Linked DNA regions of Homo sapiens: region 1 is linked to region 2. Evidence: fine-mapped expression QTL. A gene starts in region 2. The other region holds a variant in brackets. All regions are shown on one strand. Distances are between the middles of the regions. Region 1 has its middle 26 kb from the start of TTLL2. Region 2 holds the start of TTLL2 (tubulin tyrosine ligase like 2).

The links. PIP is the estimated chance that this variant, and not a neighbour inherited with it, causes the effect.
Region 1: its variant is fine-mapped to the expression of TTLL2 in spleen (GTEx, PIP above 0.99). The same link has a PIP of 0.9 or more in prefrontal cortex.

Annotation. Positions count from the first base shown.
Region 1 is chr6:167,345,350-167,355,901 of GRCh38, forward strand. It overlaps the pseudogene LOC100421518. Among named protein-coding and RNA genes, the nearest start is that of TTLL2, 26 kb to the left of the region's middle. RefSeq lists enhancers at 5,630-6,308, 6,132-6,426 and a silencer at 5,650-5,919. The variant CTGACCGCGT/C (reference allele first, on the strand shown) is at 6,125.
Region 2 is chr6:167,320,342-167,328,341 of GRCh38, forward strand. TTLL2 (tubulin tyrosine ligase like 2) reads left to right here and starts at 4,745. Exons shown (of 3, transcript NM_031949.5): 1 at 4,745-4,879. The coding sequence starts at 4,833. RefSeq lists an enhancer at 4,284-4,785.

The sequences.
Region 1 (10,552 bases), 26 kb after region 2:
TATGGCAAGCCTGAAGCTCCCATCATACTCAATAGTAAAATGTTGAAACCTTTTCCTCTAAGGTCAGGAACAACATGAGGATACCTGCTCTCACCACTTCTGCTCAACATCATACTGGAAGTCCTAGTCAGCATTAAGAAAACAAACAAACAAACAAACTAATAGGAAAGAAAGAAATAAAATTGTCTCTGTTTGTTGATGACATAATCTTATATATAGAAAACCCTAGAGATCTCACCCCAAACTGTTGCAAACTCAAACAAATTCAGTAAAGTTGCAGGATACAAAATCAACAAGCAAAAAGCAGTTGCATTTCTACACACTAACAACAAACTATATAAAAAAGAAATTAAGAAAATCTCATTTACAATAACATCAAAACAATAAAAATACTTAGCAGTAAATTTAACCAAAGAGGTGAAAAATATGTACGCTGAAAATTGTAAAATGTGATGAAAGAAATTGAAGATGACACATATTAAAATATTATCCTGTGTTCATAAACTGTCAGAATGAATATTGTTAAAATGTCTGCACTACCCAAAGCAATCTACAGATTCAATACAATTTCTATCAAAATCCCAATATCATTTTTCATAGAAATAGAAAACACAATCCTAAAATTTGTATGGAACCACAAGAGACCCCAAATAGACACAGCAATCCTGAACATAGAGAACAGAGCTAGAAGCATAGCACTATTTATTTTCAAAACAGATTACAAAGCTAGAGTAACCAAGCCAGCATGGTGGTTGCATGAACACATACGCATCGACCAGTGGGACGGGATAGAGAGGCCAGAAATCAAGCCACGTATTTACAGGGAATTGATCTTTGACTAAGGTGCCAAGAACACACAACAGGAAAGAGCAGTCTCTTCATCAAATGGTGCTGGGAAAACTAAGTGCAGAAAGATGAGATTGGACCTTTTGTTCACACCACATACAAAAATCAACTCAAAATGGATTAGAGGCCCAAACAAAAGACCTGAAACTGTGCAAGTACTAGAACAAAACATAAGGAAAAAGCTGCACAACATTGGTCTGGTCAATGATTTCTTGGATATCACCCCAAAAGAGTAGGTAACAAAAACAAAAATAAATGGGATTAGATCAAACTAAAAGCGCCTACACAGCAAAGGAAACAACAGAGGGGAGACACAACCCCCAGGCTGGGAGGAAATATTTGTAAACTCTGTATGTGATAAGGGGCTAGTTTCAAAAATATATTTAAAAATTCAAATACGAGCAAAGGACCTGACTAGACATTCTCAAAAGAAGACACACAAATGGCCGAGAGATACATGAAAAAATGCTCACTATCATGAATCATCAGGGAAATGCAAATTAAAACCACTAGAGCACTTCATACCTGTTAGAATGGATATTATTAAAAAGGTGATCCATTACAATATCCCTTCTAACAGGTATGAAGTGATATCACACTTTGTGTTTTGCTGGGGATGTGGAGAAAAGGAAGTCTTTGTACACTGCTAGTAGGAATGTAAATTAATACAGCCATTGTTTTAAAAAAGTATGGATGTTCCTCAAGAAACAAAAAATGGAATTACCATATGATCCAGCAATCCCACTTCTGGGTATATTTTCAAGAGAAATGAAATCAACATGTCAAAGAGATGTCTGCACCTCCATGTTCCTGGCATCATTATTCCCCATAAGACACGGAAGCAACCGAAGTGTCCAACCACAGATGAGTGGATAAAGAAAGGCTGGTGTATATCTACAATGAAACGCCATTCAGCCTTTAAAAAAGAAGGACACTGTCATTTGTGACAACATGGGTAAACCTAAAACACATTATGCTAAGTGAAGAAAGCCAGGCGCAGAAAAATAAGTATCACAGGTCTTCCCTTGTACATGTAATCTAAAAATGTTAAGTTAATTGAAGTAGAGAGTAGAATGCTGGTTACCAGAGGCTGAGGAGTGGGTAGGGGTGGCAAATGAAGAAATGCTAGTCAAAGGGTACAAAGTTCAGTGAGGCAGAAGAACTAAGTTCTATGAAGCCGTGGTGGGGAACTGCTGCGGGAGGGGCCGGGGGAGCGGCTGCGCTCTTGGTCGGCCAAGTGGAAACCCATGTGCCTTGGTCTGTGGGCCTGGCTGAGGCGATGCAGCTCTCCCAGGAGCAGAGAATCACCCTGGCAGGAGCGTGGAATCCTGGCTGAGTTCTTCCCATTTGGTATCAACAGCATTTTATATCAGCACAGCACATACCCACCTGAAGCCTTCATTGGAGTGCAGAGTACAGACTCACCTTGCTTGTAACTACAGATCCTGTGCTCATACAATACCTAAATAATGTGCTCGAACAACCAAAGGATTGGCTATACAAATGTTCGTTCATAAATTCGCCACAGTCATTGCAAATATTGAAAGTGGTGATGTCCTTGAAGGAAGGCACTTTGATACTGAGTGTGACAAGACTGCAAAAGATGACGGTGCACCCAGAGAACAGAGAGCGCACCCAGAGAAAGGAGGACAGGTAACCCAGAGAAAGGAGGACACTGAACCCAGAGAAAAGTCTCAGAAAGCTATCCAGGACAAAATCCATCCAGCGATCAGATGAACCACAGTTAGTGACATTTCTGCAACTGTTGAATTTTCTTGTTCATTCGATCTATGATTTATGCAAAGATCTGGTTGTACCTGGAAGATGGGAAGAGTGGGGACCACAGTTCATGACCAATCCGAGCAAGTCTCCCTTCATTCATTTGCTGCTACATCCACACAGCTCACAGCGTGGTGACCCACAAAACCTTGTCAATGACCGAGGATGACATGAGGAAGATAGTGTAATTTTCAAACGTGGTTTTCCTGAAACCAAGTCAACTATAGCTGATATGTTTTATTTCACTGGTTAATGTTGACATGGGAAAAACCAATATTATACTTTACTGAACTTTGTGTAATTGGTCAATTTTTTTGATACCTGTTAGGCTTACCATGGGGTTGACATAATGAATTTATTGCACATTGTTCAAAAGGAACCAGGAGGTTTTTGTCAGCACCGTAGTGTAAATTCCATTGCAGATGGTAACTGTAGATGGAAAAACTTTTGCTATAAAATGAAATGCTTCCTTAAATCAGACATTCTGGTAAAGTGGCTTGACTCAGCACAGGTAGGGAGATATTTAAATATAAAATACAATGAAAGCAGTCTAAATATTTAGAATCTTGGTTTAGATCCTGAAAGTAACTAATAATCCATAAGCAATGCAATATTGCTCTACTGGATCCTTTTGACATTTATTTCATCATGTAGTTTTCCATATTTAATAAATTTACAGATTTAATTTATATAACTTGAACCTATGAAGGAACAGATATTTCTACTGTTTAATGTCCTGTGATGTAGAACTCTTGAAAAAATTTTTTATTTTATATAATCAAGCTTTAAGTAAAAAATGAAGAAATAAAGTTAAACGTGTTATTATTTTTTAATTAATTAATTAATTATTTTTTTTTGGCAGAGTCTTGCTCTGTCGCCAGGCTGGAGTGCAGTGGCGCCATCTCGGCTCACTGCAACTTCCGCCTCATAGGTTCAAGTCATTCTCCTGCCTCAGCCTCCTGAGTAGCTGGGACTACAGGTGAGTGCCACCATGCCCAGCTAATTTTTGCATTTTAGTAGAGACGGGGTTTCACCGTGTTGGTCTTGAACTCCTGACCTTGTGATCTGCCTGCCTCGGCCTCCCAAAGTGCTGGAATAAAAGAAGTTCTAGTGATCTGTTGCATAGCATGGTGACGATAGTCAATAATAATGTAGTGTATATTTCGAAATTGCTAAAATAATAGATTTTCAATGTTTTCTTCACACAGAAAAAATGATGCCTGTAAAGTAATGGATATGTTATTTAGCTTCATTCAATCATTCCACAATGCAAACATACATCAAAACTTCACATTGTACCTAAGAAATATATACAATTACCGTCGGTTGAAATTATTTTGAAAGAGGCCAGATTAAGCTGCTGCAAGTAGGGATGCAGAGTGGGTGGCACAACTGCAAAGAGCAAGGGTCACCGCCAGGGTCAAGACAGTGACCTCTAACCGTGGCTGGGTGCACAGGGAGACTGCGGGTACAGCTGACAAAGCCTATGACCTCATCCAGGCGTGGGGGTGTGCACCTGTGGTCCCAGCTACTCCAGAGGCTGATGCAGGAGAATTGCTTGAACCTGGGAGGCGGAGGTTGCAGTGAGCTGAGATCGCGCCACTGCACTCCAGCCTGGGAGACAGAGTGAGAGTCTGTGAAAAAAGAAAAAAAAAAAAAAGGCTGTGACTTGACCTGCATGGAGTTCAGAGAAAAGGCAGGAGAAAAAACATGTTCCGGGGAATTTAGACACGAGACTGGAATGAACACTTTGTTCATTGCCTGTTTTCACGCATTTATACATTTATACGTTCTCAACTCTGTTCCAGGAAAGATTTAAAGGACGCAAGTAAGAACGCAAGCCCGTCAAGGCTGCTCCGATTTTAAATGTCAGTTCAGCTCCTACTTTATGGGGTTTGGCAAATAGAGTTAAGGGCCTTTTCCTCAAATGCTCAAACATTCCAATGAGACTAAATCAAGCAACTGGAATCGCTTGAAAACCAGAGACCAGATTCCATTCTCCCTCCGTTTTTTTGAAATCTTCACTTCTTTATCACTAGCTGGGTTTCGATGACTCTTCAGGTGTAAAGGTCAACCTCACAGAAATGGGAAAACCTGTGTTGTTAGGAAGGATGGTTTTATGTGAGCATTTGAAGTTTTAGGGCAAGAATGGCCTCGGGCCATCTGTCAGGAGAAGCTGCCACATCTGGCAGTATCTCTCCTAGGGTGAAACGTGCGCAGATTAAATTGAAGTAATAACGAGCTCACGTGGAGTCTGAGACGAGACAGGAAATTTGTATGCACGGCATGTGCCTTCGGTGCCCGGGCTATGGAGGAAAGAACACAGACAGTCTTCCTGAGGTGGGGCAGACAAAACCGGTGAAAGTGAAGGAGAATTAAGGCGCTACACGGTGGTCATTCAAAAAGCCTCAGAATTCCCCTCCTAAGAAGATGGAACAGGCGTGCGTTTTCCTCCGTCCCGCAGGTGCAACCGGAAACCTCGGGCAGTGCCCATCAGACAAACGCAGGAAGACGAGAGGCGGAGAGAGGAAGCCCGGGGGAGCCGGGGGACCCTGAGAACGACAGGGTGGGGCGTTCCTGGGTTTTTTTTTTTTTGACTCTTCCACCCCAAACTGGGTGCTCACAAGGACGCGGAGGAAGACAGCCACCGCTGCTGTCTCCAGCCAGAGCACTGGGAGAGGCGCGGCTCCAGGAAACATTTCAAGGACCCTGGGAAATGGGTGGAGATCTCCGAATCTAAAAAACCTTCAGGAGACTGGAAGTGTTTTGAAGTTGAGGGTTGTGGTTCTTTCTCATTTGGTTTCAAAACAGGATCCCCATTTCCCTTAATGTAGGATTCGAAGGCATAAGCAGAAGAGGAAAGGGGTGTCAAGGTCAGAGCCGCCTAGAAGCAGAAGCGCAGGCCAGCGAGATGCTCTTCAGAGTGACTTCGCTGTGGGCTGCGGCAGGCAACAGAAGGAACTCAGCATCCACTGGCCACGATCCCCTCCCCGGAGCGGAGGACAGAGCCCAGTTTCTTCAGGCGGTGGCTCCAGCCAGCTCTGCCCCACAGGGAAGGAGCGCGCAGCTGCCACACACCGCAGGCAGCGCTGACAGACTCGGCCTTCCGGGAGCGCAGGCGGGTGGGGGGCGCCGCCCTTGTCGCTGTCCGGAGCCCCGCAGGCCCGTGGCCCCCTGCCTGGTTCTCCCGCCTCTGCAAGCCTAGCCTTCAGGACTCCGCCTCGCCCCCCTCTTTTCTGTTCGGAGACTCACGGGGCCGTCTGTCTGGACCACGTGTGCACATTTCTGACCACGATTCCTCCGCACACCAGCTACAGGCACCGCAGCGCTGGGGACGGCACAGCTGAACTGTGCTGGCAGCGAAGGGGCCTCACGGGGACGGCTCAGCTCCCTGAGGGCGCAACCCACCTGGTCCGGGGGCGGGGGGGGGGGTGAGGAATAAACTTCCGCGGTTTTCAGTGACCCAGTTTGTTGCATGGCACATGTTGGAAAGGTGAAT[CTGACCGCGT/C]TGACCGCGTTACTTCAGAGATGCGCTGTGAGCTGCTTTGTGCCGCGAAATGACCTGTTTACCCGACAGCGCCCTCTGCAGCCCAGCGCCGGAACGGGCTTTTTCATGATGTTCCTGCGTTGTGTTTACAGCCTCCCTGCGAGGGGTTCGCACGCACAGGCGGACCTCGTTTTGTTGCGCCTTGCTCTATTGTGCCTCGCAGATACTGCACTTGTTTTTACAAATTGGAAGTTTGTGGTAACTCCGTTGGGGCACATCTGTGGGTCCCGTTTTCAAACAGCTTGTGCTCACTTCATATCTCTGTTTCACATTTTGGTAATTCTTGTAATATTTCGAATTTTTTCATTATCATTATATCTGTCATGGTGATCTGTACTTAGTGATCTTCGATTTTACTCTGTAATTGTTTTGGGGAACCAACAACTGCACCCACGTAAGACAGAAAACGTAATAAATGTCACGTGTGTTCCACATGCTCCACTGACCAGCTGCCCCCATCTCTCTCCCTCCCCTCAGGCCTCCCTATTCCCATTACACTATTAATAACCTACAACGGCCTCTAAGTGTTCAAGTAAAAGGAAGAGACACACATCTCTCACTTTAAATCGAAAGCTAGAGATGATTAAGCTTAGTGGGGAAAGCCTGTTCAAAGTTAAGATAGACTGAAAGCAAGGCCTTTTGCACCCAGGAGTTAGCTCAGTTGTGAATGCAAAGAAAAACCTCTTAAAGGAAATTAAAAGTGCTGCTTCAGTGAACACATGAATGACGAGAAAGTGAAACAGCTTTATTGCTGATATGGATCCCTCAAGCCAAAGCCTAATCCAGAGCAAGGCCTCAACTCTCTTCAGTTCCGCAAAGACTGAGAGGAGTGAGAAAGCTGTAGAAGAAAAGTTTGAATGTAGCAGAGGTTGGTTCATGAGGTTTAAGGAAATAAACCATGTCCATAACATAAAAGTGCAACATGAAGCAACAAGTGCTGATGGAGAAGCTGCAGCAAGTTATCCAGAGACCTAGCTAAGGTAAGTGATGGAGGTGGCCACACCAAACCACAGATTGTCAGTGTAGATGAAACAGCCTTCTGTTGGAAGAAGATGCCATCTAGGACTTTCATAGCTAGAGAGGAGAAGTCAATGCCTATCTTCAAACTTCCAAGGACAGGATGTCTCTTGCTAAGAGCTAATGCAGCTGGTGACTTAAACTTGCGGCCAATCTCATTTACTATTCCGAAAATCCTAGGGCCCTTAAGAATTTTGCTAAATCAGGAGGCCGAGGTGGGTGGATCACCAGAAGTCAGGAGTTTGAGACCAGCCTGACCAACATGGAGAAACCCCGTCTCTACTAAAAAAAAAAAAAATACAAAAAATTTGCCAAGCATGGTGGTGGGTGCCTGTAATACCAGCTACTCTGGAGGCTGAGAAAGGAGAATTGCTTGAATCCGGGAGGCGGAGGTTGCGGTGAGCCAAGATCATGCCATCATACTCCAGCCTGGACAACAAGAGTCAAACTCTGTCTCAAAAAAAAAAAAAAAAAAAAAAAAAAAAAAAAGAATTATGCTAAATCTACTCTGTCTTGGCTCTATAAGTAGAATAACAAAGCCGGATGGGAGCACATCTGTTTACAGAGTGGTTTACTGAATATTTTGAGGCCACTGTTGAGATCTACTGCTCAGAAAAAAAGACTATTTTCAAATTATTACTGTTCATTGACAATGCACCCAAGGGCTCTGATGGAGATGTGCAAGGAGAGGAATGTTGCTTTCATGCCTGCTAACACCACATCCATTCTGCAGCCCATGGATCAAGGAGTAATTTCAACTTTCAAGTCTTGTTACTTAAGAAATACATCTCAAAAGGCTATAGCTGCCATAGATAGTGATTCCTCAGATGGATCTGGGCAAAGTCAATTAAAAACCATCTAGAAAGGATTCACCATTCTAGATGCCATTAACAACATTCATGATTCACGGGAGGAGAACCAATATCAACATTAACAGGAGTTTAGAAGAAGTTGATTTCATTCCTCATGAATGATTTTGAGGGGTTCAAGCCTTCACTGCAGAAAGTAACTGTAGATGAGGTGGAAATAACAAAAGAACTAGAATTAGAAGTGGGGCCTAAAAATGTGACTGAATTGCTGCAATCTCAGGATAAAATTTGAACAGATCAGGAGTGGCTTCTTATGGTTGAGGAAAGAAAGTGGTTTCTTGAGATAGAATTGACTCCTGGTGAAGATGCTGTGAACGTTATTGATATGACAACAAATGATTTAGAATATTCCATGAACTTAGTTGATGGGGCAGTGGGTAGGGTTTGAGGGGATTGACTCCAATTTTAAAAGAAGTTGTACTGTGGGTAAAATGCTATCAAACAGCATCGCATGCTACAGAGAAACCTTTCATGAGAGGAAGAGTCAGTCAATGCAGTAAATTTCATTGTGGTCTTATTTCAGATATTGCCACAGTCACCCCAACCTTCAGCAACCTCCACCCTGATCAGTCAGCAGCCATCAACATCCAGGCAAGGCCCTCCACCAGCAAAACAATTATAACTCACTGAGGGCTCAGATGATCATTAGCATTTTTTAAATCAATACACTATTTTTAAATTAAGATATGTTCATATTTTAGACATAATGCTATTATACACTTAATAGACTACAGTATAATATAAACCAAACTTTTATAGGCACTGGGGAAACAAAATATTTGTGTGACTTGCTCTGTTGCAATATGGGCTTTATTGTGGTGGCCTGGAACCAAATCCACAGTATCCCCAAGGCCTGCCTGTAAGGTGAGGCAGCAGCCTAGGAGCTAGTGCAGCCTGCCAGGTGCTGTGTGTTCCCAGCAAGCAAGGACACTTGGGAAGTGATACAAAGACAGAAAAGTTTTGGTCGTTTGAGAATCAACTCATAATAAAAAATAAATAATGAAATATGGTTAATTGAAGTAAGTTGATTACAAACTGAAAATGATATTCAGAAGAAAAAAGTTATATACAAAGATGGTTGTGATACAAAAGAATATAATGACACATTTAATTTTATTCCCTTTAATAAATGAGGAATGTGGTCTTACTCCTTCCATTGTCTGCTTCTAAAGTATAGATATAAACCTGTATCTATCTGCAGATGCAGATAAGAAACCTGGGAAACCACAAGAAAGCCAAGTAGCCTGGGAAAAAATGGGCATTGAGCCAAGAGCAAAAAATAAGAGTCGATCCCGTTGGTGCCACCTGACAGCAGAGATGGCTGAGGACCCCCGAGCGTGAGTCCAGAGAGCTGCCCTGCAGCCCCACCCTGCCTTTCCAGGATGAACCTTCTCTGGGAAGCCACTGCTCATTCGGAAAGTGAAGAATGCCTGTGTTTCCAACACCAACACCAGCTCTCCTGACGTCTCAGAATGCCAGGACCACGCGTGATGGAACACCAGGCAGGGGAGACTCAAATATACAAGGCGAGAGGCCAGGCAGGGCCAGCGTCTCCCTCAGGCACATGAGGGCCCACGATACTTTTAGGAACCCACGAAAATGTTTTAATTTCTCTTAAAAATCAGAAGGAAACAAATAAACTCTTAGGTATAAGAAAATGTTTCAATATACACGATTGATATATCCACCTTTATACAAATGCAGTAACAAAACTTACGTGTTTAAATTTTTTAATGGAAAAAAGATCCCACAAAGGCAATGAAAGTCATGATGTGGCCTGATCCCAGGTTGCAAAAAACTAAAACATTTGTGAACGGCGTTCATTAGAAACACAAGAATGCTAATGTAGCATGTCAGGTTTAACCATAAAATGTTGAATACGATGTCCAGTGACTTGAGTTTAAAATGCTGGAGGAGGAATAACCAGAGAGTAACACAGTTTCCGCTGTCACACCCACACCCACAGCAAGACGAACTACAGAATTTCTGTTTTTCTTTTTAAAGCAGGGAAAGAAGTAAAAATGACAACAAAATATAATTATAGTAATAATTCTAGGAAAATATAAAAATTAAATATAGAATAATGAGGAAATGGTTAATGCTGTAGAGTAGGTTCAAAGTGGAGGTAAGAAGTAGGTGATAATCTGAATTGTTTGGTTGTGTCTCTTGTATAAGGTATTTGTTCAAAAGAATCAGCCATGCTAAAACTATAATTGCAGTACTCATTAAGACAACTTAATTAGAATCAATCTTTAAGTGCTCAAGCAAAGGTTGTTTCAAAGGTGAATTTGATAAACTGAGCATCAGAGTCCTCATTTTTGGGCGTCAGCCTCCATGTTGAAATCCCTTTCACTTTAACACCAATAATCAGAGTTCACGAGGCCCCTCTCCATGTTCTCACCTCTTCGTTTGCTCCAGAGCCTCTGAGGCTCCACTCTCCACTCTAGCTGCTGGGGAGAGAAGGTGAAGGTGACTGAGCTCCATCCTCAATGTG
Region 2 (8,000 bases):
CAGCCCACCTTCTCCTAGCGTCCCGAGGACAGATCACGCCAGCTGAAAGAAGATCTGAGTCTGGGGAAGGAATCAGGAAACTTGTCTTCCTTCCTCCTTCCCCTTTTCTTCCCATGGGGTCAGCACCCTGGAAGGGGTAGGAAATCCAGAAGGAAGCACGTGTGTGGCGGGAATCATTCTTGAGAGAGCTGCGGGTGCCACGGGGCCAGCCACGCTCCTTCCCCCGAGACCGCCTGCCCAGGCCCCTGCTCGGCCAGACCCGCACACAAAGGAGCAGCGGCCGGAGACGTGGTGCCCTGGTGGACAGGGGCTGTACCGTGGCCTCAAGGAACGTGCATGGGCAGAGAACAGTCTCCTGTGGTGAAAGACAGATGCCGCCGTGGGTTTCCCCTGGTGACTATAAAGCCTCCATCCTACCCACGTTGCAAATGTCCCACTCTGCTCCCTCCTGTGCCTGACTCACTATCCCTGTCTGGAGAGCATCTGTCCGACTCCCAACGCGACACGCCCTCCCTCAGTCCCTGACTCCCTCCCTTCCCTTAGTCATTCTGTTTGCAAAAATAAGACAAAACAAAAATCTACACAGGCGTTCGACCAGACCGCTTTGGAAGGTAAAGTCTCACACCGGGAACGCAAAGCAAGTTATTTATCTCCCATGACGCCTCCGTCTGCCTGTCCTGATGCGTGTGGGCAATAGGAAGCCTCCTTCCTTAGGGAATAGTTCTTTCCTGCCCATTGCTGGCAGGGCAGGCTTTGCTTCATCTCCAGCCATGGCCTAAAAGGGCACCAATGACAGGGTGGGCCTTTGAAAATATGGCCCTGAAACCCAGAGGGTTTACCTGTTCAACTTGGAAGTGTGCCCATGAGCACCCGTGTGTGTGTGTGCACATCCGATGAGCTGCACAGTCCACACACTCAGCTCCGAGGAGAGCACAGCGGCCTTGAAGAGAAGCAGATTCGGGAACCTCACATTCAATACTGAGCCATGGATCTCACTCGGCCTCCAAGTACAGGAGAAAGCCCCACCCACCACCCCTGTCCCTCCTTCCCGGGCCTTCCCGCCAGGCCAGCCCCCTTCCAGGGCCGTCCCCTCACTCCTCCCTCACCTGCCCAGTCCTGCAGAAGGCAATTGTGATTTCTGTTTTTGCAGCAACCTTTCCTGAGACCTCATCTATCTGTTCCACTTCCATCCTTAACCCTGACAAATTCCAAGCAGGTCTCATTCTCATCATGCAAGAAAATTAATAAGCAGATTAGGATATTTATTCATTCATCCAAGAAGTATGTACTTAATATCAAGCATTTGCTAAGTGCCACATATTGACCTAGATATAGTGAATCAAGCAGGCATTAAACGGCAATGTTTTGTTCTCAATAAGTTTCTATTCTACAGAAAAAATGTAAAATCGGTTTGTGGGTGGCCAGAGGCAGGAAGAGCAATGGAATTGGGTGAGGGCATGAGGACAGACATGGCACAGCTGTGTGCAGGGCGGAAACACCGCTTCCTCTGACGAGGTGGTGGGAGAGGCTGCAGCACCCAGCGGGAAAGCCAGGGAGGTAAAGCAGGGGCTGAGGTCTGAGAGGAGGCCCACGGAGGGGGCCCAGATCGCACAGGGCCCAGCACCGAGGTAAGGCCCTTAAGTTTTATTCTGAGCCACATGGGAACCCGTATTCATTTCCTAGGGTGTCATAATAAAGCACCACAAATTTGAGTGGCAAAAACAGCAGGAATTCATTCATTTTCTCACAGTTTAGAGGCCAGAATTCTATCAAGATGGCAGTAGGGCCAGGCCCTTCTGAAAACCCTAAGGGAGGGTACTTCCTGGCTCTTCAGCTTCCGGAGCTGCGGGCCATCCCCAGTGTTCCTTGGCCCGTAGATGGACCACTCCAATCTCTGCTGCCATCTCCATGCGGCCTCTTCCCCATGTGTCTGTATCTTTGCTCAGCCTTCTCCTCTGTGTCTCTGTGTCTAGTTCCTCTAAGAGGAACTTCATGCCACTGGTGTCCACAGAAGGACACTAGTCATATTGGATTAACCACATCTGCAACAGCCCCATTTCCAAAGGTCACACTCTGAGGTTCTGGGAAGACATGAATTTTGGGGGACACTGTTGATCCCAGTACAGAACCTGCTAGAAGGCCTTGATTAGAGGAGTGGCAGGCATGAAGTGACTTCTTTATAAAAAGATCATTCTGGCTACAAGAAGCATTTTAAAAAGAACATGCTTATGTAACCAGCACCCAGAGCAGGTCATGGAACGCCACCAGCAGCAGCCGAGACCCTGGGGACCCAACACCACCACTTCCCCCAAGGCAACAGCTTCCAAAACTGGAGGCTCGTTTTATGTACTGAATTTGATGTATCTCTGTCTTCATTAACATTTATTATGAAAGCATCATGTTCATTATAGTCCTTCAAACAGTACTGAAGTAAAGATGGTAATAAAAGTCCATTCTCAGTTAATATTGACTATCTCCCCCAGTGAATCAGGTACTGTGCTCGTCGGGGGGTTTTTGAGGAATGCTAACTGGAAAAATGTCTAGGCTTTGGCCACCGGGTTGGGAAGATCTTTGGGAGGCACAGAAGTCCCCCCGAATTCCCTTAAGCCACGCTGTTTTTCAGTCTTTCTCCCTCAGGCTCAGTAGAGGGTAGAAGGGGTTCTCCTTCCATCAACCACCTGGGATGAGAGTCTTGATGCTCACTGGAGGGATAGGATAGGGGTGTCATAAAATGGAGAAAATTCTACGTATTGGTACAGAGTTTTCTTGCACTTTGCCAAAATTATAGATGTAAACATCATAATGAATCTAACCTCCTCTTGATTCCACAGGAGGGTGCGTAAAATAAGTGTGTTCTGGTGCCAACAGTGGGAAGCGGGGGATAGATTTATGCCATAATAGTGGGCATTTGTGAGTTCCACACAACAGAACATAGGGAGCCCCCAAGCACGCTGACTGCAGCACGAAGCCAGGGCGGGAGGAGACGCTGGACCAACACTGTGGTGGGATCCAGTGCTCCTCTGGGTTGGGTCTCTGACGTTAAAGTCCAGAATCTGTGTGGTCAGTCCCTAGGAGGTGCAAAGCCCATCTCCAAGCCTTTCCATATCCAGTAACCAGGAGTTAGGTGGAGAACTGAAGCCAAGGAGAGGAGTGAGCCCCATGTGAAATCAGGGAAATAATCAAAGGGAACAACAAATGGTTTGGGGAAATGTGTTTGCTTCTAGTGCTCACTTCAGACAAAAATACATTTTTATAAAAAATGCACACCGCATATTTTTCTTGCCAAAATGCCCCTAGGAGTCTCCTCTAGTCTTGATAGCTTTGCCCTTCTTCTGCCAGATACCCAAGTGGAGAGTCAGCACGAAGTCTCGGAGGTGCAGGTGTAACATCTCCAATGGAAGGGACAGATGAAACATGGCTGAGTAAATGCATGATTTACAAATCGACACACCAGTGATCTGAGCCCAGGTGCTCTTGCTTGTGCCAGGATTGCCTTCCCTGGGAGTGCAGGAAGCCCAGATAAAGTAACCCCACCCACCCACCCTTCCTCGCACGCTCAGGAAGACAGTCCTGGTGGAAGAACCTCATTTCACTTCATTTTTACAAAATTTACCCCACCACGTGCTGGGAGAAAAACAATAAATAATTAACAATGCATGAACATGTCAAATGGAAAAAGAAAAATGCCTTTCAGATTATATCTTATGAATGACTTTTGTTCTTGGTTTGTGGATAAGGAAATTAGCCATGTTTCCCTGTGCTTGACAGAACTTGGGCAACCTCCTCAGCAGCTTGGTGTGCAGTTTTTATAGAGTTACGTGAAGCAATTGATTGTTTCTGGAAGACGGTGGCAATGCCTGTAATCGAATAGATGGCAATAAAGCATTCAACTGTCATCCACAGAGGCAGCCACTTGCCAGAGCCAACATGTGCCGAGGGTAGAGAGTCTACGGCTCTGAGACGCCTGGCAAGGCCTCTCCAGTTCCTGCAGTCCTGAACCTCAGGGGTGGTGGCCGGAGGCCGTTAGATTAGCGAGGACACAGCCTGAGCTGGAAGGAGGGGTCCAACTGGGATCTCTGACACAAACATGGCTTAAACAAAAAGACACGTAATTCATTTTGGAATCTCAACTGCTTTTGTGTAGACATAACTTTTTTTTTTTTTTTTTTTTTGAGATGGAGTCTTGCTCTGTCGCCCGGCTAGAGTGCAGCGGCGCAATCATGGCTCACTGCAATGTCCACCTCCTGGGTTCAAGCAGTTCTCCTGCCTCAGCTTCCCAATTAGCTGGGATTACAGGCACCCACCACCATGACCAACTAATTTTTGTATTTTTTTTAGTAGAGACGGGATTTCAACTCGATTATCTCCATCTCCTGACCTTGTAATCTGCCTGCCTTGGCCTCACAAAGTGCTGGGATTACAGGCATGAGCCACCGCACCCAGCCCACGTTAAATATTAAGATTCCATGCAGGCGAAGCAACAGGAGAACCTGGCAAGAACAGATGCCACCCCGCCAGGCAGCCCACAAGGCCTGCCCCCTGTGTGCTGGCCGCTGAGGCCTGAGGCATGGGGACTGGCAGGAGGCCCACTGGGTCGGAGAGAGAACTCTGAAGCTTGGAGGGAGGAAGGTGTGATGAAGCCTGGGTCCCTGTCCCTAAGGGGTCCTGACAGTCTGGGCCCCACCCTGAGTCTATGACTGGCTTCCCCTTTGTGAGGAGAGCAGACCCTGCATCATCAGCAACCAGTGCTCCCTCCAGCCTCCGCGCATTTCAGCTGGCGCTGCAGCTGCTGCACAGAGACCCACAGAGGCCACCCTCGGAACCAGCGCCCAATGAGAGGGCGGGACCTGTGTTCCTCCACACAAAGCCAGGCGCTGGGGTAAGCGTAGGAGGCGACACGTAGGATGGGAGGGTGGCCCCGATCATGCCTCTGTTCCAGGACCAGCCCCTTCCCGAGAGCACAGGGGCCAGGGTCACTAGGAGCAGCGAGTGTGCACTGGGACCCCCGAGGGGCAATTTGTAGTCAGCCCTTCATACTCCTTCAAGGGAAAAGCAGTCCAGCATTGTATGAAGTCATGTACTTTTCAATCCAAAAATTTCCTATGGTGTCCAGTGCCTCCTGCATGCTGAGGTGCCAGTTATATAAGAGTGAACGAAGTAGACCCATTCCTGAGACTAAAGTTACCAAAGGAGGGGAGTGTAAGTTAACTGCATCCCATAGTGGGTACAGGAAATTCAACTGAATTCAACCAAAGCCGATTGAATGGCCGCTGTGCTCTGGGAACTGTGACAGATGCTAGGGTTATGAGACGGAACTGGATCATCTATGAAACACACATGGTTGTAATTCAGGGCCGAGCAGAATTGTTTCCATAGGATAAGTGTGAAGTGGTATGGACCCCACGGGGGAAAAGAAAATCCCCCCAGTGTAGAAAGGAAGGGCTTCAAGGAGGAGTGGGCATTCATGCTGGGCTTCCTGGGAGAGGTGGGCTTCCATCAGCAGAAACTCAGGGGCTCTAGGGGCATTTGAGGCTGAGGAGGGTGGGCTGAAGCACTGGGCTCCTGTTGTCACATGCGAGCGGGAAGCGGGCTGTGACAGGCCGAACAGCGGCCGAGAACGGGTGCAAGGCCGTGAGTGCCTGCCGGCCTGTAGCCTCCACACCGCAGGCAGAGGTCATGATGAGGGAAGAGATCACACCTGCCCATCTCCAGTCTTCAAAGAGGCAAAGTCAGCTCTCCCAACTTGGGCTAGTGATGGCGTTTGCGTTTCAAGCAGCTCAGTCTACCCCGGGTTTGTTGGAAATGAGGCTACTCTGGGTGTCTTGGGGCTGAGCGTACACATGGGACTTGATCTTTGACCTCTGCGACCTTAGAACTTTCTTGAGAAAACAGAACTTTCCTGATAATTAACAGAAAAAATAGTGCATGATTTCTGGTTTAATAATAAAATAATTATTCTGTGTTTCAAGCAATACAAATTTTTATTCAAAAGAACATTTAGGTAGGAAGTTTTTTTAAGTTGGTCAACTCAAAAAACGGGACTGTCTCATCTATAATTGGGGTGAAAAGCATTCTACATTCCATATAAACTATAAGCCACAGCTATCAACTATGCATCAGGAAAGGTGACAAGCAGAATGTGGACCATTTACAGGCCAAGTGCTTGAGGGTGACTGATCTCCACAAATGGCTTCAATGACCTAGAACAATCACGCACAAGGCCTGCAGCTACTGTGCGTTCCTACCCAATAAAGGTGGGATATTTTCTATGTCTACACCAAGCTTGTCCAATCCGAAGTCCTTGGGTCTCATGCAACCCAGGAGAGCTTTGAATGTGGCCCAACACAAATTTGTAAACTTTCTTAAAACATCATGAATTTTTTGTGATTTTGTTTTGTGTTTTTAGCTCATCAGCTGTCGTTAGTGTGAGTGTATTTTATGTGTGGCCCAAGACAATTCTTCTTCCAATGGGCCCAGGGCAGCCAAAAGACTGGACACCCCTGGTAGACAATGTAAATCAAAGAAAATGACCACCGCAAGTCTCAATCATTTAAGAAGTTTATGTGCCAAGGTTAAGGATGTACCCAGGAAAAAGAACACAGAACCACAGGAAAAGGCTGTGGCTTATGCTTTTTCCCCCATAGAGGGTCTGGGGACCTTAATAAGTAAAGAGAAAAGAGTAGGTATTGGGGGAAAGAGGAAGGAAAAAAAAAGGAGGGTCTGTAAGAGGGAAGCAGTTGCAACTTTTTGAATCTTTGGTCAGCATTCACTGAATACACATTTTATAAGTGGGGCGGGTAGAGGAACAGTCGCTTAGCATTCGTCTTGCTTAGTGAAACTTCATTTTTATATAAGATGAAATAAACATAGGACAGAGGATGCCATCAGTTATGCATTTGCCTCAGGTAAATGGAGGGATGACTTTGAGTTCTGTCCTTTGTCCCGTGCCTGTGAAGATGAGTTATCATCTTACATTGTCAGGGTGAAATTCAGCAGAACTGTTCTTGGGTAAAGATCTTGGAGCCCACCAGGAATTTCCTTGTGAGGGAGGTCTGTATGTAGCTTTTGCATCTTTGCAGCCATCTTCTTTAGGAGTAAAATGGGAGGCAGGTTTGCCTGATGCAGTTCCCAGCTTGACTTTTCCCTTTGGCTTAGTGGGTTTGTGGTCTTGAGATTTATTTTCCTTTTACAACAACTCACTTCTAAATTTGGAACTCACTGTGCTAAGCCGTGTGGAACAACAGCTGTGTGTATGAATTTTACATTCACACCAAGATGGCATATAGGTTTTTACATATTTACGGCTTGGCTACAGGGGTGGCTATTAATAGTTAAAAAGTGAAGGAAACCATATTCGCACAAGAGAAACGGAAACATACAGGTTATGTATGGTGAATCTCCAGGAATTCCAAGTAAAGCAGGGAAATGCTTTTGTAATTAACCTCTGAAATCCTAAAAGTATAGGTCTTTTTATATAAAAATGTACACTTTTCTTTCTATCTCTTGCACATGAAAGAGGCAAAGAGCAGCATTGCCTATTCATTGGCGGATGTTTTCTTTGGTTCTCTATGTTGGTGAAAACTCCTTTTACAGCATCTGGTATCAAGGTCACTTGAGAAGGGCCCCTCTCCTTGACCCCAAAATATTTTCTCCTCATTTCAGTTCGATGACACCTGAAATTCCTGGTGTTGAATCACATGGTTTAACCCTTCAGCTGGATCCCGGTCAAATGGAAAGTTGCTCTGGGGCTCTGTCCTGTAAGCAGTGAATGTGCCAAAAAGATAAAATGTGAAGAAAAAGACTCTTAGTTATTTTTGCAGAGCCTGTCTTGGATGGAAGAAAGCACCAAAACTAGGAGCTGTCGGCTAAGGAGGCTGCCGTCCCTGGGAGCCGCTCTCTCCTACTGCATCCTGTTGTCCCTCAGTCTTCTGGGCAAATCAGTGGGCCCTCATCTAGAGATCGGGATTCCCGCAGTGATGGAATACATTATTTTTGGCTGA